Linked DNA regions of Homo sapiens. The protein of the gene in region 4 purifies or fractionates together with the protein of the main gene of each other region. This does not show direct contact. Each region holds a gene or a part of one and is shown on either strand. Other genes may lie near its edges. The genes, in order: CDKAL1, RHBDF2, SLC27A4, INSRR, CYP51A1, AXL and VRK2.

The links.
Region 1: the proteins of INSRR (region 4) and CDKAL1 purify together in Homo sapiens (affinity purification with mass spectrometry; one large-scale study listed by BioGRID and IntAct). This does not show direct contact.
Region 2: the proteins of INSRR (region 4) and RHBDF2 purify together in Homo sapiens (affinity purification with mass spectrometry; one large-scale study listed by BioGRID and IntAct). This does not show direct contact.
Region 3: the proteins of INSRR (region 4) and SLC27A4 purify together in Homo sapiens (affinity purification with mass spectrometry; one large-scale study listed by BioGRID and IntAct). This does not show direct contact.
Region 5: the proteins of INSRR (region 4) and CYP51A1 purify together in Homo sapiens (affinity purification with mass spectrometry; one large-scale study listed by BioGRID and IntAct). This does not show direct contact.
Region 6: the proteins of INSRR (region 4) and AXL purify together in Homo sapiens (affinity purification with mass spectrometry; one large-scale study listed by BioGRID and IntAct). This does not show direct contact.
Region 7: the proteins of INSRR (region 4) and VRK2 purify together in Homo sapiens (affinity purification with mass spectrometry; one large-scale study listed by BioGRID and IntAct). This does not show direct contact.

What each region holds. Positions count from the first base shown.
Region 1 is NC_000006.12:20,537,457-20,540,956, reverse strand, and holds part of CDKAL1 (threonylcarbamoyladenosine tRNA methylthiotransferase), read right to left. Parts: intron 1-3,500. UniProt on the Homo sapiens protein: Catalyzes the methylthiolation of N6-threonylcarbamoyladenosine (t(6)A), leading to the formation of 2-methylthio-N6-threonylcarbamoyladenosine (ms(2)t(6)A) at position 37 in tRNAs that read codons beginning with adenine.
Region 2 is NC_000017.11:76,494,924-76,498,423, forward strand, and holds part of RHBDF2 (inactive rhomboid protein 2), read right to left. Parts: intron 1-3,500. UniProt on the Homo sapiens protein: Regulates ADAM17 protease, a sheddase of the epidermal growth factor (EGF) receptor ligands and TNF, thereby plays a role in sleep, cell survival, proliferation, migration and inflammation. Does not exhibit any protease activity on its own.
Region 3 is NC_000009.12:128,347,027-128,350,526, reverse strand, and holds part of SLC27A4 (long-chain fatty acid transport protein 4), read right to left. Parts: intron 1,983-3,500; coding exon 1,824-1,982; intron 216-1,823; coding exon 146-215; intron 44-145; coding exon 1-43. UniProt on the Homo sapiens protein: Mediates the levels of long-chain fatty acids (LCFA) in the cell by facilitating their transport across cell membranes. Appears to be the principal fatty acid transporter in small intestinal enterocytes.
Region 4 is NC_000001.11:156,839,563-156,842,117, reverse strand, and holds the end of INSRR (insulin receptor-related protein precursor), read left to right. Parts: coding exon 1-6; coding exon of another isoform or gene 7-37; intron 38-323; coding exon 324-453; intron 454-589; coding exon 590-724; intron 725-1,013; coding exon 1,014-1,245; 3' UTR 1,246-2,055; downstream 2,056-2,555. UniProt on the Homo sapiens protein: Receptor with tyrosine-protein kinase activity. Functions as a pH sensing receptor which is activated by increased extracellular pH. Activates an intracellular signaling pathway that involves IRS1 and AKT1/PKB.
Region 5 is NC_000007.14:92,120,978-92,124,477, forward strand, and holds part of CYP51A1 (lanosterol 14-alpha demethylase), read right to left. Parts: intron 2,877-3,500; coding exon 2,757-2,876; intron 2,339-2,756; coding exon 2,143-2,338; intron 1-2,142. UniProt on the Homo sapiens protein: Sterol 14alpha-demethylase that plays a critical role in the cholesterol biosynthesis pathway, being cholesterol the major sterol component in mammalian membranes as well as a precursor for bile acid and steroid hormone synthesis.
Region 6 is NC_000019.10:41,250,223-41,253,722, reverse strand, and holds part of AXL (tyrosine-protein kinase receptor UFO isoform 1 precursor), read right to left. Parts: intron 1,373-3,500; coding exon 1,280-1,372; intron 878-1,279; coding exon 756-877; intron 125-755; coding exon 15-124; intron 1-14. UniProt on the Homo sapiens protein: Receptor tyrosine kinase that transduces signals from the extracellular matrix into the cytoplasm by binding growth factor GAS6 and which is thus regulating many physiological processes including cell survival, cell proliferation, migration and differentiation.
Region 7 is NC_000002.12:58,137,306-58,140,805, reverse strand, and holds part of VRK2 (serine/threonine-protein kinase VRK2), read right to left. Parts: intron 1,141-3,500; coding exon 974-1,140; intron 1-973. UniProt on the Homo sapiens protein: Serine/threonine kinase that regulates several signal transduction pathways.

The DNA.
Region 1 (3,500 bases), on a different chromosome or scaffold from region 4:
TGTTACAGGAACTCTTCTCTAGTTTCAGGCACTCCCTAGGTGACCTCATCCAGTCCCATGGCCTTGAAATATGAACTACGTCTATGCTTACATAACCAGCCCCATTCTTCCCCCGAGCTTCAGACTCAGACGTTCAACTGCCTATTCCACACCACTGCTTGAATGTCTAATAATTCCTTCAAACTTAAAAAGTTAAAACAGGGCTGGGCATGGTGGCTCACGCCTGTAATCCCAACACTTTGGGAGGCTGAGGCGGATGGATCACCTGAGGTCAGGAGTTGGAGGTCAGCCTGGCCAACATGGTGACACCTCGTCTCTACTAAAAATACAAAAATTAGCCAGGCATGGTGGTGGGCACCTGCAATCCCACCTACTCGGGAGACTGAAACAGAAGAACCGCTTGAACCCAGGAGGCAGAGGTTGCAGTGAGCTGAGATTGCACCACTGCACTCCAGCCTGGGCGACAAAGGGCGAAGCACCATCCCAAAAAAAAAAAAAGTCAAAGTCGAAACAGAATTCCTGATCTTCTCCCTACCTTACCAGATCCTCTTACAACTTCTCCCATTTCATTTAATGGCAATCCTGGCTGGGCGCAGTGGCTCATGTTTGTAATCCCAGCACTTTGGGAGGCCGAGGTGGGTGAATCACAAGGTCAGGAGTTCAAGACCAGCCTGTCCAACATGGTGAAACCCCATCTCTACTAAAAATACAAAAAATTAGCCAGGCATAGTGGCGAGCGCCTGTAACCCCAGCTACTTGGGAGGCTGAGGCAGGAGAATTGCCTGAGCCCAGGAGGCAGAGGTTGCAGTGAGCCAAGATCTCACCACTGCACTCCAGCCCGGCCAACAGAGTGAGACTCTGTCTCAAAAAAAAAAAAAAGACAATCCCAATCTTCTACTGCTCAGGCCAAAAATCCTGCACTCCCCTCTTTCTGTCACCCTAAATCCAATCAATCAACAACATCCTGTTGGCTGTACCTTCAAAATATATTCAGAATCTATTTGTGACCATACCCACTGTTACACTCTTGGTCCAAACCAACATCACCTCTTGTCTGGATTATTGCAATCCCTAATATCCTTGCTTCTATCCTTAAACTCTACAAGAACATTTTCAGCACAGAAGTCAGGGATCCCTTTAAAACCTAAGTTCATCTCAAGCTTCTCAATCAAACCCTTCCAGTGGTATTCCATATCAGAGTAAAAAGCCAAAATCACTACAAAGATCTGCAATGACATATATAATCAGCCTCCTGCTGCATCTCTGGCCCCACTTCCTACCACGCTCCCCTCAGTCATGCAGGCTTTGTTATTTCGTACCCACTAGATATGCATTCATTTCACAGTCTTATTCTTGCCTGGAATGCTCTTACTTAAGACACCTGAATGGCTCACTCACTCAAGCCCTTAAGGACTTTGCTCAAGTGTAACAAGAGAGGACTTTCCAACCAACACCCCCACCTCACCACACACCCTCTTCCTATGCCCCTTTCCTGCCTTTTTTTAAACTGTAGCATTTAATCATCTGCTTAAAATGTTTTAATAATTTTTTAACTGTTTATCTTACTAGAATACATACTTCGTGAGGGTAAAGGTTTTCGTGTGAGGTGTTCACTGTTTTATCCCAGGTGCCTAGAACTATGTCTAGCACATTGCAGGTTCTCAATAAATACTTTTACTGCAGACTACACAGTCGGGCAATATATGGATATAGATATTCTGAGTATGCCAAATTAGTTTCTGACTCGGGAGCCTTCATAATTGCTATTCCTCTGCCAGAATATCAGCCCCCAGATAAGTATGTCTTCCCACCCACTTCTTCACTCAAACAACATCTCCTCGGAGAGGCCTTTCCTACTACCTTATCTAAAATAACCACGCTGCCCAAGCATGCCCACACTTTCACTGCTTCTAACCCTGCTTTTGTTTCATGTTTCTTCATTGTGCTTACCTACCTGACACCACATATATAATTGTATCTTCCTCATTACAATGTAAGCTTGTTAAGCACAAAGGCATCATCTCTTTTTCAGTACTGTCTCTACAACACCTCTAACAATGCCTGACACATAGCAGGCACACAATAGTTACTGACTAAATGAATGAACACAATGCTTAAGTTGAATTTAGCTAGTCTTTCTATGACACAGCAGGAAATTCTACACTGGGTGGGAAGCTGAAGTAAATGCCCAACCCCTAGGATTTCTTCTATCACCACTCTTCTATGAAATAATTAAATGAGAGAGGCTAGGACCAGGTAGTGCCTTTGGAATGCGGAAGAACTACTGACAGATCATGAATAATTAAATAACATTAATTAAAAGCCATATTTTTTAATTACACAATTTTGCCATCCCATATACAAGTGTGTATGGATCCACTGAAGAGAAATAGAAAGGAAAAAGAGGAATGAAAGGAATCCACTGCAATAGACATCCCATATCATTAGAGTTAGAGAAGCAGAAGTTGCTAAGCTTCTTATCTTACAGAGCTGGAGTCCACTGAAGCAAAAGGATTTGTACATTGATAGAGCTAGAAATCAGAACCTTGGCATCCTCTCAATACCATGCTCTTCCCACTATGGCTTTGCCTCACTGGCAAAGTACAAACAATGCAAGAATCTAATGTGACACTAATAAGTAACCACATTCCAGAAAACAATGCGTAAAGGAAAAACAGGCAGTTCACTTAAGAAATACAAATACCCAGAAAAGAAAAAAAAAAAAAGAGGAAAGAATGCTCAACCACACTAACAACAAGTATTGAAACAATAAGTTATTTTTCAGCTGCCTCACTGATACAAAGCTGACAAAAACTCTGTTAGCTGAAAGCACAGAAAAACTGGTACACCCCTTCTGGAGGGCAACCTGACAATTATACCAAACATATGTATATCCTTCGAGCCAGCAATTTCATTTGGAGATATTCACTCAAAAAAGATAAATATAACGCTGCATATCAGCATTATGTAGCATAAACCTGGCTGTATATCATAAGTACCTAAATAATCTCACTCATCACTATTAATAAGCTAAAGGTTTTACTTTGAACAAACTGATAGACTGATAGAGGGAATTGTTTAGCCTTCAGAAATTTTTAATTAAATCATATGGAAATGAAAGTTTGAGAATAAAAGGAAAGCAGCGTAATAGCTAAATGGAGCAAAAGGATCATTAAAAATTTTTCTCAAAGGTAGAGGAAATCAAATTTGATAAAGGGAATAAAAATAGAGTCAGTGAAAAGGAAAATACTCAAAATGATAGGAAGAAGGAGGATGCAATATCCTAGAGCAGTGGTTACTTACATAGGTGAGTTATTAGGGAGGCTTTTTTTTTTTTTTTTTGTAATTATGAGACAGAGTTTCACTCTTGCTGCCCAGGCTGGAGTGCAATGGCACGATCTCGGCTCACTGCAACCTGTGCCTCCTGGGTTCAAGCAATTCTCCTGCCTCAGCCTCCCGAGTAGCTGGGATTACAGGCACCTGCCACCACGCCCAGCTAA
Region 2 (3,500 bases), on a different chromosome or scaffold from region 4:
CGGGCCCCAGTTCTCCTGCTCCCTCAGCATCGTTGTGAAGGGGAGGAGTCAGAAGTGGCCCCTGGGGGCCAAAAGGCCCTGTCCATTTGGGGTCAGACACCAGGACACTGGAGGGTTTCCGGGGTGGGGTGTGCACCACACAGTGCCACAGCAACACAGGCTCGGTGGGAACTGCCCTTTGCTGCAAACGTTCATGAAAGTCTGCCTCTCTGCATCCCGGCAGCCGGGTTTTCACGGGTCCTTGGAAGCAGTGGTGGTCCAGCACAAGCCCAGCGGTTGGGGCAGGATGAGATGCAGCCTGGGGTCTGTGTGAGAGGTCCGTTTCACTCCTGCTGGAGGCTCCTTGACACTAAGGTGTGACCAGGCCATTTCCGTTTGTGACTGTCCCATGTACACAGACAGGGCACTGTCCTGTGCTTACAAAGTAGGAGCCCACCCGGTTTCCACCTGCCTCCAGACAGTGAAAATCTGTCCCGATGGCAGAAGACAGGGTCACAGGCCCATCTCTAACCACTGTGCGATCTTGGGCAAGCCACTTAACATCTCTGAGCCTCAGTTTGTGTATGCATAAGATGCTAGTATCCTCCCAGGGTCTAAGATCTATGTGACTTTGTCACCATGAACGAGGGCTCACCCCAGGAACAGCTCAGCTGAGGTACAAGGTCTCACCTATTGTACAGAGAGGTAAGCACCTTGCCCAGTGCCACCCAGCCAGAAATAGGCCTGGACTGGCTGGGTGTGAGCATGCAGAGCCCAGGGAGCCGACGGCATCCCTGGGCCCTCACCTCGACACACTCAGAGCGCTTCTGGAGGCCCAGTTCTGCCTCCGGCTGCATGGAGCCCCTCAGCAGGGAGGGAAAATGCCAGGCAGACACTTCTGAGCTTGTAAACGGTCATTAAGGAACTAATAAACCTGATTTCCCAGAACGTTGCCCTGGGGCTCCCTGCTTCCCAGGGAAGAGGCTGGCCCTAGCCCCAGTGACTGCCAGGGTTTCAGGACACGGGGACACCAGGTTGCTTGTCCCAAGCAGGCCTGCAAAGCCACGTGCTTATGGCCCACACCTTGCTTCGGGGCAGCGTGGAGCTCTCTTGCTGAGGAATGAGGAGGAATAAGGGGCCAGAGATGGGACTCAAACCTGCCTGGGCCACCTACCTGCTGGGAGACTTTGGGCAAGTGGGTGCTGCAGAGCCTGCCTCCTCTGCTGTGAGATGGGTTGATGCCCCACCACGGAGGGAGCCAGGGAAGATGACAGCAGATATGAATGTACAGTGCCTGGCACACACCCAACGCCCAGTTGGAAGTTTCTTTTATTCCTGGCTGAGCTCTGCCACCATCGCTCACTTAGTCTCTATCTGAGCCACGAGCCCCACAGGGGACAGATCTCTATTCGACAGGTGGGGAAACTGAGGCTCAGAGAGATGAAGTCACCTGTCCAAGGTCCCACAGTTAGGGAGGTGGTGGGGCTACAACCCCAGCCAGGGTCCCGCGCTCTTAACCTCCACACTCTGCAGCCTCTTGCCACCCTGGAACTGGTGAGGGGCAGGAGAAAAAGAACGGGTGAGGACTCTGAGTGTTTGGGGTGCTGGAGTGAGTCCTGCATGCAAAGGCCTTTGATTCATGAAGAAGGGACAGCACCTAACTGCCTGGGCAGCACTGCTCAGCTTGCAAAGGACTTTTACAGACATGATCTCATTTAGTTGAGGCTAAGGGTGAGAGGCGGCTGTCATCATCCTCACGGGCTGGCAAGGTCAAAAGGGGCTTAGGCCAGGGTTCAAAGTCCTGTTCCCACTCCAAACCCCACAGCAGATCCTCAACCCTCCTCTTCCAGATCTCTTTTTTTTTTCTTTTATTTTTTGAGACGGAGTCTCGCTCTGCTGCCCAGGCTGGAGTGCAGTAGGGTGATCTCGGCTCACTGTAAGCTCTGCCTTCTGGGTTCAAGCGATTCTCCTGCCTCAGCCTCCTGAGTAGCTGGGACTACAGGTGCATGCCACCACACCTGGCTAATTTTTTTGTATTTTTAGTAGAGACGGGGTTTCACCGTATTAGCCAGGATGGTCCCGATCTCCTGACCTTGTGACTGCCTGCTTCAGCCTCCCAAAGTGCTGGGATTACAGGCGTGAGCCACCGCGCCTGGCCCCAGATCTTCTTATGACTAAATGGAGCTGACAACCTGGGGAGACCCACTGGGAGAGGGAAAAGGGTTTCTTGCCAGAGACCGGGGCAGGAAGCCATCCCTGCACCACCTGCTGGCACAGGGTTGGCGGCCACACGGGGGAGGCAGAGGAGAAAACCAAGACTTGAGGCAGCTTTACCCTGCTCCCAGCCCCAGGAACCTACGCCAGGGAAAGCACAGCTGAGGGGCACCAACTCCATGAGCTGCCCCCCACCCCACTGTCAGTGACACACACACACTGGCAGGCCAGGAAAACCCCTGGGCAGAGGTCAGCAGTTCATGCCCAGATGGAAACCCACCCTCACTTCCCTTGGCCAGCAAGGCACTGAGGTCCCCCTACCCCAGACACAGCCACTCCTACAGAATAACAATAACAACAGTGCCACTGCTCCATATGCGTGTTCCCATCTAGTCCTTGACAGCCCACGAGGCAGGGCCTCGGCCATCTCCCAAGTCTGTGCCATGGACCGGCAGCCACGCCCCTACCTGAAGCCACCCTAACACCATTATCACGATGGCTCCCCGCACTGCTCCTGCCATGGCCGGGCACTGCACTGCAGGCTGCACACCTTTACCACGGGAGTCCTCACCTCACACAACCCTCCAGGTAGATTACTGTTAGTGAGCCCACTGTGCAGCTGGGGAAACTGAGGCACAGACTAATTAAGTGAACTCATCCTACTGAGCACACACATGGACGACTGTGCCCAGCAGCCCCTGGACCTTGGCCCAGCTCCTGAAGTTTGGAATCCTCCTCCATCCTTTTCTGCTGGTCACAAGGTTCCCCTCACACTCCAAACAGTGTCTCTGGCCCACCTCCTGCACTGCCCACTTGGCTGAAACCACTTTCCTGCAGGAGCCGGGCACTGGGGCTGGAACTGCCTTCCAGTAGCTTTTGGACCACAAACAACTCCCAGCTGGGCGCCCGGATACATTTGCTGAAGGAGGGGCCGTGGACACGGTGGCGCTTTGTACTTCCCGGAAGATGTGTTTTTCCTTACACCCATCCTAGGTCTCCTGGGAGGCAAAACGACGTTCCGGGCAGGCTTGGTTTCCCTGTGAAGCCGCCCGTGCCCTGAGAGCTGTCCCTGCCTAGCCACCACCACCGCCGAGGTCAGCCTGTACTTGGGCAGGCGCAGACGTCCCCGCCACTCCTCCCCCAGCCTGGCTCAGCTGGATAGGAAACTGGGAGCCGCTTCCGACAGCCAGCGCTTCCACAGCCGGTGCAGATGCCTGAGCTCACTCTGGAAATCCCCTGGGGCAGATGGGGCAGCGCCGAGGCCTGCTCCAGAGTGCGAGGCACAGAGATCTGAGGAGAGTGTGGAG
Region 3 (3,500 bases), on a different chromosome or scaffold from region 4:
CATGCGGAATCCATAGTACACCAGGGCAGCCATGCGGTAATACCTGGGAAGGCACAGGGCCAAGGGCTGAGCGGGCCCTAGAAAGGCAGAAGGAGGCTCCCCAGCCCTGCCTGTGCCTACCCCACCCTGGGCACCTGCCCCTTACCTGCTGTGCACCACGATGGCGGCCTTGGGCAGCCCTGTGGTGCCGGATGTGTAGATGTAGAACAGTTTATCTAAAGAAAACAGACGCGAGTGGCTGTCGGGGGCAGCTCAGGGCTGGGCAAAGGGTCACACAAATGGACACCTGCAGGTGTGCACCCTTCAACACCTGTTCCCATCACACCCTTGCTAGGAAGCCTGTTCTGATAACCTCAGATACCATTCAGCTCTAACACCGGCATCCATTCCAACAAATATTTCCTGGGCCCTTGCTCTGTGCTAGGCCCTGGTGGAGAGAGACATCAGTGAGTAAGATGGGCACGGGCCTGGCCCTCTTGGCAGTCACAGCTCAGTGGAACAGTCAGATGAGGACACAGGCAATTCCAATACTAAGCAACAAGTGCCGAGGGAGGGCACAGGACCTGTTGAAACCCAGTAGCCACATTTGGCCCAAGCTTGCAGGAGGGGAGGTGGTGCCAGGTGGGCTTCACGATAAAGGTGACACCTGCCCCAAGTCATAGAGCACAGGGAGGCATTAGCTGCAGGAAGTGGGGTGTTGAGGTAGCTTCCGCACTGCTGAGCATTGATCTGTCCCACTCTGCAGCCCTCGACAGGGATTGCCACGTTAGAGTTTCTATGTGAGGCTCGGCCCTACCAGACTTGAGGTTCCCTGGAGGTCAGGAACTCCACAGGCAGACTCCACGTGTTTAGAATGCCTGCCGAGACACCTCATGCTCTCTGCCTGCCTGCTGTTTGCCAGCCCTAGGCACTATGAGGGCACCAGAGCAACCAGCCAGAGTCCCTGCCCTCAAGCAGCTGACAAATGCACCCAAGAGACCAGATTCACATACAAGAGAGAAGTTAAACAGTGCTGATGACAATGACCAGTTACTGAGCCCCTCCTGCCACACCCTAGCTTCAGGACTGGCCCCACTGTATTTTTTTCAACCCTCAAAGATACCCCATAGAGTAGGTTCTGCTACTGTCCCCAGTTTTATGGCTGTGGGAACTGAGGCTCCAAGGGCAGGGCAGGTGTCAGGGTTCACACAAAGGAAGCAGTAGAACCAGGATATAAACTCGGATCTGACTCGACAGCCCAAGCTCTGAGCCACCAGGCAATGTGGCTTCACAGGAAAGAGAATGAGAAGAGCAGAAGAACCAGGTAGGCTACAGTATAAAAGAAGAGGGGTGAGAGGCTCAGGAAGGCTGCCTGGAGGTGGGGTCAGGGAGGCAGCACAGTGCTGGGAGAGGATCACAGCTGGAGATCCTGAAGTGTCCTGCACTGAAGAGGCACTTGATGAATATACAAAGGGTCTTGCTCCTCACCCACCCTCCCACCCAACCCCAACCAAAGCCCAGACCAGGCAGGTTCCCGGAGTCCACAGGATTCTGCCCATTAGGCATCAATGAAGGCTTGTTCAACAAATCACACTGGACTTTGTGAGCTCCTGTGTTCTCAGCCCTGTATCTGGCACTGATACACATCAGCTCATGTCACCTTCACAGTAACCCTGGAGTGGCCCAGGTTTACTGTCACCATTTTCCAGATGGAAAAAGGGAGGTGACGTGACATGTTCCAGGCACATGGCAAGTTTCCAGAAAAGCCTCCTTCTGGCACTGAGGCCAGTGCTCTGTCCAGGGCCTGTGTGAGAGCCCCTCTATGGGGAGGGGATGGAGCCCACCTGTGAAGCCCTTGTCAGGGCAACTGGGAAGGTGCTTGGGAGCATCTTTCAGCAGAGGGTCCAGGTGTTCTGTGCTTGGAGGCACCGCACCGGGCTCCCAGGAGCCAGAGCAGAAGAGGCTGAGCGAGGGGTCCAGGCTGGCATGGACCTCACAGATGGCTGTGGGGAGACAGGGCAGTCAGCAGGCAGGCCAGAAAACCCCATGTTCCCAGGGACCTCTGCTCCCAGCAGGGCTGGCCATGTTGCTGAGGATACTGGCTGGGCAGGAGGAGAGGCAGTGAAGCAACTGGGCCTTCAGTGTTGACAGGGGCACCGGCAATGGTTCTATTAGCCATGGGCTAACCACAGAGTAGGTCCGCTTTACCTGCATTCCCTGGTCTCACAGCCCTGGGAAGGAGGGACCATTGACAGCCCCTCTTACAGATGAGAAGATTGACGCTCCGAGAATGAGAGGACCTGCTCACAGCTAGAATGTGCTGGACCTGGCGTGCAATGCCAGCTCTACCTCACATCAAGGTCTGGGCTCCCCCCCACTATCCCGCACTACTTACTCTGTGGTGCACCAGATAGAAGGGAGGAGTGCGGGTCAGAGGCCAGTGGCCCTCCATCCCCTTCCGAGAGCGGGAACCTGCTTTCAGGCTCCCCTGCGCACTGCACGGACATCACATAACCCCCACCCCCGGGCATGGAGCAGCGCTGGTCGGCTTGGCCCCACCTTCCTGGCTTCCTCTTGATTTGCCCAACCCTCTCTTCTTCCCTGGCTGCCTTCTTCCCTCTCCCCTTTCAGCACCATTTTTTTCTTTCCTTTCTTTTTTTTTTTTTTTCTTTTGCTTTTTTTAAATAGAGACAGACAGGGTCTCACTATATTGTCCAGGCAGGTCTTGAACTCCTGGGCTCAAGAGATTCTCCTGCCTTGGCCTCCCAAAGTGCTGGGATTACAGGCATGAGCCACTGTGCCTGGCCCCCTTTCAGCATCTTTTTTTTTTTTTTTTTAAGACAGAGTTTCACTCTGTCGCCCAGGCTGGAGTGCAGTGGCATGATCTCGGCTCACTTGGTTCAAGTGATTCTTGTGCCTCAGCCTCCTGAGTAGCCAAGATTACAGGCGTGTGCCACCACACCTGGCTAATTTTTGTATTTTTAGTAAAAACAGGGTTTCACCATGTTGGCCAGTCTAGTCTTTAACTCTCGAGCTCAGGTGACCTGCCCTCCTTGGCCTCCAAAAGTGCTGGGATTACAGGCGTGAGCCACCATGCCAGGCCCCCTTTCAGCATCCTAATGACTTCCCTATTCATTATCCCACAACCACAACAGTGTGGGGAGAAAAAACAGAGTGCTGTGATCAAGCTGAAGATCAAACCCCAGTTCTACCACTTACTAACTGTGTGATCTTGGGTGAGCTCCTCACAAACCCCTCTGAACTCCAGGCTCATCATCCATAAAACCAAGATCCCTACCTCACTCGGTCTTTATAGAGATTAGAGCTGCTCTTGGAAAGCAGCAACCTCAGTACTTTGCAGGTGCCCAATGTGGCAGCAAATAAAATGCAGGCTCTGTGAGGAAAGTGGGGAATTAATTTTGTTCCCATTTTACAGATGAGCTAGATACGGCCTAATTAGTCACAAGGATGATTACCATTGTACTGAGGGGCCACCTAGCATCAGCCATGTTGCTAGTGCT
Region 4 (2,555 bases):
TCGGGGGTACAGAGGGTGCCAGGCAGATGAGGGCGGCCTGAAAAGTAGAGAGACTCCCTTAAGCTAGGCATCAGGAGACCCACAGCCCTGGTCCTGACAGCCTGTGAGACCCTTGGCAAGTCACCCCCACCCTGTATCTTAGTCTCTTGTCCAAGGGCAGAGGGGTTTGGATGGGATGAGTTCTGAGGTCCATTGAGCCCCTACTTTCCAGGGTTCTTGGTGACTCTGGAGGATGAGAAGATTGGGAGAGGTATCCCAGGGGCAGGAGCTAGTGCGTGGCTCTTATGCCCCACACCTCCTCCACCCTCACCCTCACTTTCCAGACTTCGGGATGACTCGGGACGTGTATGAGACAGACTATTACCGCAAGGGTGGGAAGGGGCTGCTGCCCGTGCGCTGGATGGCCCCCGAGTCCCTCAAAGATGGGATCTTCACCACCCACTCGGATGTCTGGTGGGGCCGAGCTGGAGCACAGGGCTCCAGGGATGTGGAGGCGGGATCTGGGGAGGGGCCTGGAACACCCCCATCCCTTGGAATGCACTGAGTAGCACGAAGGGTGCTGGGCTCAGGAGCTCCTGCATGCCCCCAGGTCCTTTGGCGTGGTACTCTGGGAGATTGTGACCCTGGCAGAACAACCCTACCAGGGCCTGTCCAATGAGCAGGTGCTGAAGTTCGTCATGGATGGCGGGGTCCTGGAGGAGCTGGAGGGCTGTCCCCTTCAGCTGTGAGTCACCTCCCCTGCCCCTTCCTCATTGTTGATCTACCTACAACCCTCCCCCACCCGGCCCCATGATTCTGGCTCACCTCCTCTGATGCTTTGACATCCACTGACCCTCAGCTATGAGCGCCACCCCCCTATCCCAAACCCCCAAGACTCCCATTTAATCCCTTCTCACCCTCCCAGGCATAATGGCCCACGATCCCCACTCCCACCAACTGACCCTCAGTGCAGGAGGCTGAGAGCGTGGCAGGGGCTCCCGGATGCCTCTGACCCTGCTCCCCACACCCACCAGGCAGGAGCTGATGAGCCGCTGCTGGCAGCCGAACCCACGCCTGCGCCCATCTTTCACACACATTCTGGACAGCATACAGGAGGAGCTGCGGCCCTCCTTCCGCCTCCTCTCCTTCTACTACAGCCCGGAATGCCGGGGGGCCCGGGGCTCCCTGCCTACCACCGATGCAGAGCCTGACTCCTCACCCACTCCAAGAGACTGCAGCCCTCAAAATGGGGGTCCAGGGCACTGAGGGGCACCTCATTCCCTGGCTGGCCTCCCATGGGGAGACAGGAAGGGACCCGACCTCTGTGGCTGAGACGCCTGAATGTTCACCCCCACCCCAACTCAGGGCAAGGGATGGCCGAGGGTGGGGCAGAGAACAGGAGCAGGGAAGGCTGTGGGGGTGGGCAGAGGGGTCTCACCATAGGAGTTTCTCAGACTCTGAGTCCCTCGGGGGAGAGCAAGCAGGGTCAAAGCCAGAGGAGTAGAGATCAGGTCAGGGAGAGATGTCCTGCCCTCAGAGGTAGGGACCCCACTCAGACTAGGAAGAGGGGGCCCGCCCACCCTAGAGGCCCTGCCCCTCAGTTTGGGGTCTCCTCTGGACAGGTAGGGCCAGCGACATGTTTGAAATCAGATGAGCAATCAGAAGCAGGCCTGGGGCGCTCTCCATGCATGTATGGGAGGGGGGTGGGGCTCCACATGACTGCCTTGCTTGCCACTGGTTTCACCTCCTCCCCTCAGCTCCACTGACCAGGTGGCATGGGGAGAACCCAGGGGCCTGGGGAGTGGTTCCCAGCCTGCCCGCCCTCACCTCCTCCTCTCCTTTTGCCCTGCCCAGGGCTCCCCAAGCTTGGTGCTCCTTCCTCCTTTTCTCCAGGGGCATCCCTTGGAGTACAGTCACCCTTTCTTCAGTCCCTCCCCTCAATGATTAGCCCTGGATGCTTAAGGCTTTCAGAGCCTCATCTTCCTCCCTCCCCTCACCCTCACCCAGCCCCGCCCCCACCCCTGCCTCTCATGGGAAGACTGGAGAAGGCACAATAAATGCTGAGGCCTGTTTGTACCCTGGTCCCAGGCAGCCCATTATCTCTCCATCTACATGGTGTTAACACTGGATGAACTTCCTTTCTCCCTCCTCTGGGACTCGAGGTGGTGACCCTAAGGCAGAGACACGGGATAAATACACTGCTGTCAAACACCACCTCCATGAGGACCCGAGCAGCCAGGGTTGCCATGGCAGTGAGGCAGGACAATCTTGCTATTATCTCCTGCTCAGGACCAGAAGTGGTTGAGCCCGGCAGGGAACCTTTGTGTCTAGCCTCCAAGCAGAACCAACCAGTCCCGGACACCTCATCTTAATTTCACCCCTTGTTATGTTCGTTATATCGGTCCACTGGGTAGGTATTTTCTGGAGTGTCATAGGACAGACTTTAAGTGGGCAGACATGGGGCAAGGGAGAGGCCCTGATGACATCACCTGTTCATGCCAGATGCCCCCACCCAAGCCAGGGAACACACAGCAGAGCAGGGTCTGTGTGTCTGGCACCCTGTGGTTATCCTGGGA
Region 5 (3,500 bases), on a different chromosome or scaffold from region 4:
CAGGGAAATGCAAAATCAAAACAAAATACCAACTGGGCATGGTGGCTCACACCTGTAATCCCAGCACTTTGGGAGGCCAAGGCGGGCAGATGACTTGAGGTCAGGAGTTCAAGACCAGCCTGGCCAATATGGTACAACCTTGTCTCTACCAAAAATACAAAAATTAGCCAGGCGTGGTGGTGTGTACCCAGCTACTTGGGAGGCTGAGGAAGGAGAATAGCTTGAACCTGGGAAGCCGAGGTTGCAGTAAGCCAAGGTCGCGCCATTGCACTAGAGCCTGGGCATCACACCAAGACTCTGTCTCAAAAAAAAAAAAAAAAGTATCACTTCACACCTATTATAATAAAAAAATCAAGTAACAAGTTTGGTGAGGGGGTGAAGTCAGGACCAACATATACTGTTTAGTGAGATTTGAAAGTGGTGCAGCCACTTTTTAAAACAGTCTGGCAGTTCTTCAAAGTTACCTTATAACCCAGCAATTCTACTCCTAGGTATGACCCCCCAAAATTGAAAACACATGTCCACATAAAATCAGTACACAAACGTTTAGAGCGGCATTATTCATAATAGTTTAAAAGGTGGAAACAACTCAAATGTCCATCAACTGATGAACAAATAAACAAAATGTGGTCTATCCATATAATGGAATATTATTGGTAATAACAAAGACTGAAGTACTGATACATGCTACAACATGGAAGAACCCTGATAACATGCTAAGTGAAACAAGGTAGTCACAAAAGACTACAAATTGTATGATCCCATTTACATGAAATATCCAGAATAGGCAAACTCACAGAGGCAAAAGGAGATTAATGGTTGCCAGGGGCAGCAGTCAGGGAGAATGAAGCATGACTGCTAATGGGTACCAGCTCTCTTTTGGGAGTGATGTAAATGTTCTAAAATTAAATTATGATGATGGTTTCCCAACTCTTAATATGCTAAAAACCACAAAGTGTACATTTTAAATGGATGGATTTATGCTATGTAAATATATCAGTTAAGCTGTTATTTTAAGTTACTAAAAACAAGAATGAGTGTTGAGACATCACTACTGAGCTTACAGAAATAAAAAGGATTATGAGAATACTATGAACAATTGTATGCCAACAAATTAGGTAACCTAGATGAAATGGACAAATTCCTAGAGAGATATAAACTACTGAAACTGACATAAGAAGAAATGGAATATCTGAATAAACCTGTAACAAATAAATTGAATTAGTAAGTAAAGTCTTCTCAGAAAGAAAAGCACAGATCTAGATGATTTCACTGCTGAATTTTTGCAAATATGTAAAAAAGGATTAACACCAATCATCCACAAACTCTTCCAAAAATTAGAAGAAAAAAAGAATACTTCCAAATACATTCTATGAGATGAGTATGATCCTGATATCAAAACCAGTCAAAGACATCACAGTGAAACTAGAGATCAATATCCTTTATGAATATAGATGCAAAAATCCTCAACAAAACACCAGCAAGTTTATATGTAGTAACATATAGAAAGAACTATGCACCATGACAAAGTAGGATTTATCCCAGGAATACAATTAACATCTGAAAATCAGTGTAATGTGCCATATTAATATAGGACCAAAAGCACAAAAGATAACAGGAAGATGACATCACCAAGGTTTGCTTCCAAGATGGAATGTCAGGTTGTGCAGTGAGTTGTCCTCTCTTCCTTTCCACCCAGCAAGTTGCATGTAGTATTTGTAAATGTCTTGTCCTCATTACTACTACTACTACTACTTTTAGAAGTCTCTGCTCATGCCCAGGCCACTCTGGACATACAGAATTCTAAGTAATTCAGAGGCTTCTACACTTCATAAGACACACAACATGCACATAATATCCTCTATGTACAGAAGCCAGACTTTGAAGCAGAGGAAGTAAGTACCAAAGAAACATCCCCAAGGATCTCTAAGCCATCAACCCAAAACATATCTGATAAAGCTTAATGGCAAGAAGCAATAACATTAAGATATTTTAGGTAAGGTTATAGGGAATTTGCTAAAAATAGAGAAGCTGATCAATTTAAGCTATAGTATATAGAAAATCTCAAATTGTCCCTTTTAAAAATTAGCCACAGATCCTCAAAGTCATAAGGCAGCAATGAAACTGAAAAATCCAACAAACCTGGTCATAAGTTAAAGGAGGCAGATTCTCTCCACAGACTGTTTTCTGTTCTAAATAACATTTTTTTTGAAGTGTTTTGTCTCTGGCCAAAAAGAAGCCCATCCAAGCACTAGTAGTTGAGGATGTATGCTGCCCTGCCAAGAGTAATCCAATAAGCATCCCTGCTACTTCATCATCAGTCAAAGGACGCCCATCCCTAAGGAATGAACCAAAGACACAAATTTAACATTTTGGCAGATACATTTCATGCCTCAACCTTTAAATAAAGTGTCATAATGAATACATTTTTCAGGTATAGTGGTCTCTTATATTTGACTATCACAAGTCAAGAGTTTTTTTTCTCTTAGGGAAGAGACAGACCAGCACAAAACGATTTTGATTACAAAAGACTCCATTACAGTTCATTAGCAAACTTTTACCATACCCAGTCACTGGGATTACAGTAAGACACAGGATGCCAATAGTTTATGTCTCAACAATTTAAAGAGTCCAAAGATCACAGCTACCAACTTATTTTGCCAGCATCACTGTTTTTTAACTGGAAATACTATTTAACTGTGTTTTAATGTGTAATTTCCTGCTTCAGCTTAATATGTTATCTGAATAGCTCTTACTTGTATGTAGCATCTAGTAAAGTTTGGAGAATGTCATCAATTTTTTCTTGAGACTGTCTGCGTTTCTGGATTGCCTTATAGAAAATATCCTTGATTTCCCGATGAGCTCTGTCCCTGCGTCTGTAATTAAAAGATAAAGATGATTTTCTTAAATAAAGAAATAACCTTCTAGGATCAAATTCATTTTGAGAACCAGGACCGAGCATAAAGCATCTTATTTAACCAACTTTAATGACTCTAAAATAATTGACAAAAAAATCAGAACCAGGAACATACTGGAAGTCATGAAAATCTTACATTGTTAAAAATGTCCATAGTCCCTAAGGGCAAGAACTGTGCTTTATTTAACATATATATCCCAGATTCTTAACACATTGCCTGTGTTCAAACTAAAGGCCTAAAACAAGCAAGAAATTCCTTTAGAAGTATTTTCCAGTTCAACAGAAAGTAGGATACTCTTTTAAATTAACATAAAATTCCAATTTTAATACCAAATCAAGTCTTAAAGCAGAAGAGTCACTCTGGTTCTTCCATGGAATCTGGTTCTACTTTTCACTTTCTAATACAATAGTTTTTTGTAGGGGGTGAAAATACTAGCAGATTCAGAAAACAAGCTTCAACTCCTAAACTTTACCTTTAAATAGTATGTTCACTATGTAGCAGGTACCATGTTAAGTGTTTTACATGAATTACTCACTTTTATCTTCCTGTGAGGTACATACTATTAACCTCAAGTTATAGCTA
Region 6 (3,500 bases), on a different chromosome or scaffold from region 4:
TGAAAGGCACTCACATGCAGTTCCTGGCCGCCAGGTCCCGGTGTATGAATCTCTTGGTACTCAGATACTCCATGCCACTGGCGATGTCTGCCATGAACTTCACTAGCATCTGAGTGGGCAGGTACTGGGGAGCCAAGGCAGGTGGGAGGAGAGGTCAACAGAGTCCTTGATGCGATCCCTCCTCCCTCCATCCCTCTGTGCAAGCCTAGCTCTGCCCGCAGTGGTTTCCCATGGCCCTGACAATTCAACCCAACCCCTCTCCATGGCCTGCAAGGTCCTATAAACTTGCTCCAGCCTTCCTCTTGGACTTGATTGCCTATGTTCTTGCCCTTGACTGACACTCCCACCAGACTCCTGTCTGGTCTTCAGACAAACGATGATCATTCCCACCTCCGAGCCTTTGCCTATGCTGTGCGCTCTGTTGGGGTCGCTTCCTGCCCAGATCTCCAGACATCTCCCCAGCCCCAACTCCTTCACGGTCACCTCCTCGGCAAGATCTTCCACGTCCACCCAAATTCACTGCCTGGCCTCCTTATCTTCCATCCTACTGTATTTCCTTCCTAGCACTTAAACATTTAAATCATCTCGCTTAGGTATTTATTAGCTTGTTTATCATCCGCCCCTCCCCTGCTGGAAGAAATGCTCCAGGAGAGCAAGCTCCTGGTCACCGTGGTCTTCCCAGGGTCTGAGCAGCACTGGGTACCTGATAGATGCTCAGTTAATATTTGTAGACTGAATGATTAAACGCCCCTTACCACTGGCTGGTCCCCGAGCCGGGAATAGAGGAGGAAGCTGTGTAGGTCTCCATGTTTCATGAAAGGTAAGATGACCACAGGTGCTGGGAAGCTCTCTCGTTCAGAACCCTGGAAACAGACACCTGAGCCCCCCAGGTAGCCCTGTCACTCCTGCTGGGCAGAAGGGGAAGCCAAGCCCCCCACCAGCCAGCCTCCAGCCTCTCCTTCTCACTACCCATCCAATCTGGCCACCATATTGTTTGGGGGTAGTGGCAGTGGCAAGGACCAAGCTGCAGAGAAGCTGTTTCCAGCAGAGTTCCCAGGGACGTTTCCGGAGCCCTCCTGGGGACCTCAGCTATTTCTGGGAATGATCAGAGGTCACATTCCAAGCTGAGGGAGACTAGGAGGGGGAAGCCTGCTGACCCTGAAGGAGCGGGGAGCAGGAAGCCTGGAAGTTTGATCTTCCCAGGGCCAGAAGCAGGGCTCTTCCCTCTGCTATGGCCCCCATGGGGCTTGTAGACCCCTTGAATCTGCCCCTCTCTCACCGATGAGCCTCATGACGTTGGGATGGTCAAATTCCTTCATGCAGACCGCTTCACTCAGGAAATCCTCCAGCTCTGACCTCGTGCAGATGGCAACTTGAGGGAGAGAGAAAGGTCGTGAGGAGGAGGGGAGGAGAGGGAGGACTCTCCCTCCACCTCCACTCCATCATCATCATCATCATCATCATCACTCATCTTCATCAAACATGATTAGTAAGTACCAGGCACCATACTCAGCACTTTATATGTGATATGTGTATGTGTGTGTGTCTGTGTGTGTGTATATAATATATATATATATATAAAATATATATTTTCTTTTTTTTTTTTTTTTTAGATGGAGTCTCACTCTGTTGTCCAGGCTGGAGTGCAGTGGTTTGATCTCGGGTCACTGCAACCTCCGCCTCTCGGGTTCAAGCAATTCTCCTGCCTCAGCCTCCTGAGTAGCTGGGACTACAGGCGTGTGCCACCACACCCGGCTAATTTTTTGTATTTTTAGTAGAGACGGGGTTTCACCTTGTTAGCCAGGATGGTTTCGATCTCCTGACCTCACGATCTGCCCGCCTCGGCCTCCCAAAGTGCTAGGATTACAGGCGTCAGCCACTGCGCTTGGCCAACTTTATATATATTAACTCATTTAATCTTCTCAGGTGCTACTATTATCATTCCCATTTTATTGGTTTTTTGTTTTGTTTTGTTTTGTTTTTGTTTTTGTTTTTTATTTTTATTTTTTGAGACAGGGTCTTGCGCTGTCACCCAGGATGGATGCAATCACAGCAAACATAGCTCACTGGAGGTTAGGCTCGAACTCCTAGGCTTGCCTTCCTGAGTAGCTGGGACCACAGGCACGCACCACCATCCCGGATAATTTTTTTTTTTTTTTTGAGATGGAGTTTCGCCCTTGTCCCCCAGGCTTGAGTGCAATGGCGCAATCTTGGCTCACTGCAACCTCTGCCTCCCCAGTTCAAGAGATTCTCGTACCTCAGCCTCCCGAGTAGCTGGGATTACAGGCATGCACCACCATGCCCAGCTAATTTTTGTATTTTTAGTAGAAACGGGGTTTCACCATGTTGGCCAGGCTGGTCTCAAACTCCCCACCTCAAGTGATCTGCCTGCCTTGGCCTCCCAAAGTGCTAGGATTTCAAGTGTGAGCCACCATGCCCAGCCAATTTTTTGAGAGGGAGTCTTGCTATGTTGTCCAGGCTGGTCTCAAACTCCCAGCCTCAAGTGATCCTCCCACCTCGGCCTCCCAAAGCACTGGGATTACAGGCATGAGCCACTGTCCCTGGCCTATCTCTATTTTAAAGATGAAGAAAGCAAGGCACAAAAAGGTTAGGAGTCTGCCTAAGGGAACACACAGCTTGGAGGTGGAAGAGGCAGATCTCAAACCCGGGCAGTCTGGCTCCAGGGTCCACCTGCTCACAACTGCCCAGGCTGCTTCCCAGCACTTCCCTACCTGCCCTGGGGACCCAAACAAGTATCATCCCATTTAACAGTTCAGGACACTGTGGCTCACAGAGGCAAAATGACTTGCCCAAGGTTGCACGGCTGAGATTCAGACCCAGGCCAAGACTATAACCAGTGGGAGGCTGAGTGGGGAGGATCGCTTGAGCCTCAGAGGTTGAGACTACAGTGAGCTGTGATCCTGCCACTGCTCTCCAGCATGGGCAACGAGCAAGACTCTGTCTCAAAAAACAAAAAACGTAGGCTGGGTGTGGTGGCTCACACCTGTAATCCCAGCACTTTGGGATGCCGAGGCAGGTGGATCATGAGGTCAAGAGATAGAGACCATCCTGGCCAACATGGTGAAACCCCGTCTCTACTAAAAACACAAAAATTAGCTGGGCGTGGTGGCGCACACCTGTAGTCCCAGTTACTCAGGAGGCTGAGGCAGAAGAATCGCTTGAACCTGGGAGGCAGAGGTAGTAGTTAGCTGAGGTCATGCCACTGCACTCCAGCCTGGACAGCAGAGTGAGACTCCTCCTCAAAACAAAACAAAACAGAGCAAAACAAACAAAATAACCTGGTACACAGGAGGTGCTCCATAATGAACGAATGAGTGGGTAATGACTTCATAGCCCAAGCTTTTAAGCCCTGTAATTCAGAAAGGATCATTCTCTATTCACCACCAGCCCCAATCTGAATGCCCTATGCTTCTCCTTCCCTGTGTGTGAAGAACTTAGCCCTGGACTTCCTGTGCTGTGTAACCCTGAAATGGCTCCTG
Region 7 (3,500 bases), on a different chromosome or scaffold from region 4:
AGGTTGTAAAGCTCTGGTGCCAAGGTTTTGCTTCCAAAGAGCTAATTTATGACTAGAAGGATATTTTATGTCTTCAGTTGCAGCAACTACAAAATTCAGCAAATCAGAACCATCTGTGCACTGATACTTGACTCACCATTCATCTAGCAGCCTATCAGTCACATTAGTTTGCATCCCGCATTCTTGGCTCATGAACACGTGTGATGATCCAAAGTTCATAAGAAATATTAAAAATGAATAGCATCCTGACCCTATCTTACTGTACATGCATCAGGAAAAAAATGCCCTCCACACTCTATTTGTGCATACGGATAGTGGTCAAGGAAGACATGGATGCTGAGTTGCCTGTCCACTATTCTTGCTAATAACGGCAGTCTAAGATTTCCACCACCCGCTTAAAAATGCTCGAAATCTTAATTTTTTTTTTAAGTTGGTGTTGGTCTTTGGGAAGATGGCAGACTAAAAGAAGAGGTGTAACTTTTAAAAAATGATTTTTTTTAACCTAGATCTCTGGCATAAACTCTTTTATTTTCTGTAAAGAACTGTTTCCATGGATTGAAATATCAGCACATACAAATAACCTGGTTAAATCGAAGACTGTTATCACCAAATTATGGCCAAATTGGTAGGCAAAAACACAGGGCAATATCTAAAGAAAACCTGGAGAAAAGAAGCAAATGATGGCTTTCTCATGAGTAACATCAGATTAGCCTTTACCCTAGTCACATCTCTATGACAGTAGTGACTGCTTTCTTTCATAGTACATAGTAGGCCACAGATCCTATTTTTCTCTGTGAGACAACAGGTCAAAAGAACTTGGAACAAACTTTCTTGGTGCTGAGTTAGGCAAAATGGGAGTTAAATATAAGGAAGAAGAAAGCTGTCAGACTCATTTTGAGACCTAAAACAATTTCATTCGATAGAAAAGTATCATAGAAGGTAATCATAGGATAGCAGGGATTATGTTACTTACTTTTTGACTGTTTGGAGTATGGACATTTATACTCTGTCCTTTTGTGGAAAAGTCCAGTGGTCCTAAAGGTATTCCATGAGGGTTCAAAATTTTCTTGAGGGCTTGATAGTTTGGCTTTTCATCATATGCTAAACTATGAGCACATACCAAAAATTGGGCTATTTCACCTGTGAATTATTAAATTTTTTACATGTCATTCACAATTGGCAAGAATTGTCAAGACTCCAGTAATCTCAAAATCTTTGTTATCTTTGTCTTTTACACATTTACATCTCCTGAAGAAACTAAAAATGAACAATTCAATGAAAATAACTTTTTAAATGATATTCAAAAATGACTGAAATATAGTGACCTACAGAATTGATGAGACAAACTAGTAATGTTTTTAACATATTTTTGTTGATACGCTTATAATTCACTGATCTTATGAGAGGAAGTATATTGTAATAATTATAGTGATTTTGATTTATGAGGTGCAACTATTAAGGACTACATAAATAATACAACTGACCATACTTCACACTTTATGCTGAACTTCTAAAAATTCAGTTAAAGTGTTACTTATTATAAACCTCTTTATTTCTAAGGAAAAAAACTGCAAATTTTAATTAAGGCTTTGATTTTGGGATTATAACCGTATATTTAGAAAGGACCTTGAATTCCATGTTGTTAGCTAAGATTGAATTTAGAATGTATGAAACCTCCCTCATGTCCTCCATACCTAGCTAGCCTGGTACACAGCCTCGTGTTTTTGATTTTAGAGCAGTGGGAGGAGGAGTTGCCATCTTTTATTTTTTCTCTAGTGTAAAGAAATGTTCCCCTAGAACTACATAGTAAACCCCCTTTCCCCAAAAAGGTTAGGAACTACCAACTTTTAAATACAAACAGAATTAGTAACCAACAGTTACAAACATCACTGCATTAAAATATTTGTAGCTTGCATTTCTGTTTCATGTTGAGGTTCAACCTAAAATTGGAATAGAAGTGGTGATAATACCAAATACTATTTAAAAACTGGCATGTTTTCATTTGTTCACAGAGATGTTTAGATATGCCTTTCCCTTTCAAAAATATATTACTGACTCAAACTCAAGTACTTCTTACTTTCTCACTTAGTTGCTTATATCCATGGTGGGAAAACCTGGGAAACTTCATGCGTTGGCAGGAGTGACTTCCTAATCCTTCACTTCCCCTCTAGGCCTACCTCCACTCAAAAGAAAGGAAAACTGCAGAGGCACTGGGTTTCACTCCCTATAGAGAAAAATTTCAAAAGGAATAGTCATCATCGCTTTCCCCCTATTAAAGTTAAGAGTGACCACTTTCACCATATAGTACAGAGCTATTTCCTGGGAACATGAAGCTAACGTGGTTAAAATGTAAACTCTTGGTTCTGGGCTTTTCTTCCTTGACACTGTAGCAATTATGCAACCTGTTTTTTTCATCTATTTTTATCAAATTCTGTTATCTAGCATTCGGTCAACCAGATCTCTGTTAACTAGCAAGTGCTGCTATTTTATCACCATATTTATAACTGATGCTTCATGCAGCCCCTTCACAAGGGCTCGGGGGTATCCAATTTCTAAAGGGATGATTAAAAAATTAAATTACATTCACTACTATTTTAATATAAATATTTTTGTTTTATGGTCCTGTGAAGATTGGTAAGCCAAGTTTGGTACATATTACAATTCCATTAACCAGAATATCCAAAATGAGGAAGAGAGTTGAATGTGCTGGGAACAAATCACTGTTACAAGACAATGGAAAACTCCTGGCACTCCACCAACTGATAGCAGCTGTGCTGCAAAGCCTTCATGGGACTGGGGTTTGGAAAAATGAGGTACCAGTGAGGTAGGAGGGGGAGAAAATAAAAAGAGCCATTTCCATTATAAATTTATTATTACAAACCTGAAGCGTAGATATTGTGATGTAATACTGGTTTAAATGTTAGTCTTTCAAGATCTGGATTTATTAAGTACATTTTAAAATTTACTAGCATATTGCCAGAACTATAAAGCAAAATGCCTTTAGTATGAAATTATGATTTTTTTAATCATCTGCTTTTTAAGCCAGTGAAGTATTAAGTATCATTACTATCAAGAGATAGAAACTTTTGAAACTATTATTATTATGCTTAGTTGGACATGTATGCTGCAAACTTCTGGCTGTTTTATTTCATAAAATGTTTCGGTAATAAACTTTTGTAAATCAGTTCCTTCATTTTCATGGTTGTGTTCTTCCTAAGCACAACCTCCTAATTTAAGAGACCTTCATGTAATATTAAAGTTTCAACACTTTTTGCTTTAGAAACAGAAATCTGCATTTTATAAATAATAGTATGGATTCAATAAAATGGTTTGTGCTAAGAAACAAAAACTGGGCTTGTCTCCCATCTAGATTACTCATCTGACTCAAATCTTTAACAATAGAGTATGACATAATATACACTGCCCACAAGCATTTGTCTTGTACAATTCAGGGCATCTGGGCTTTCTTACCCTAAACTGAACAGTTCCTTTTTCTGCAG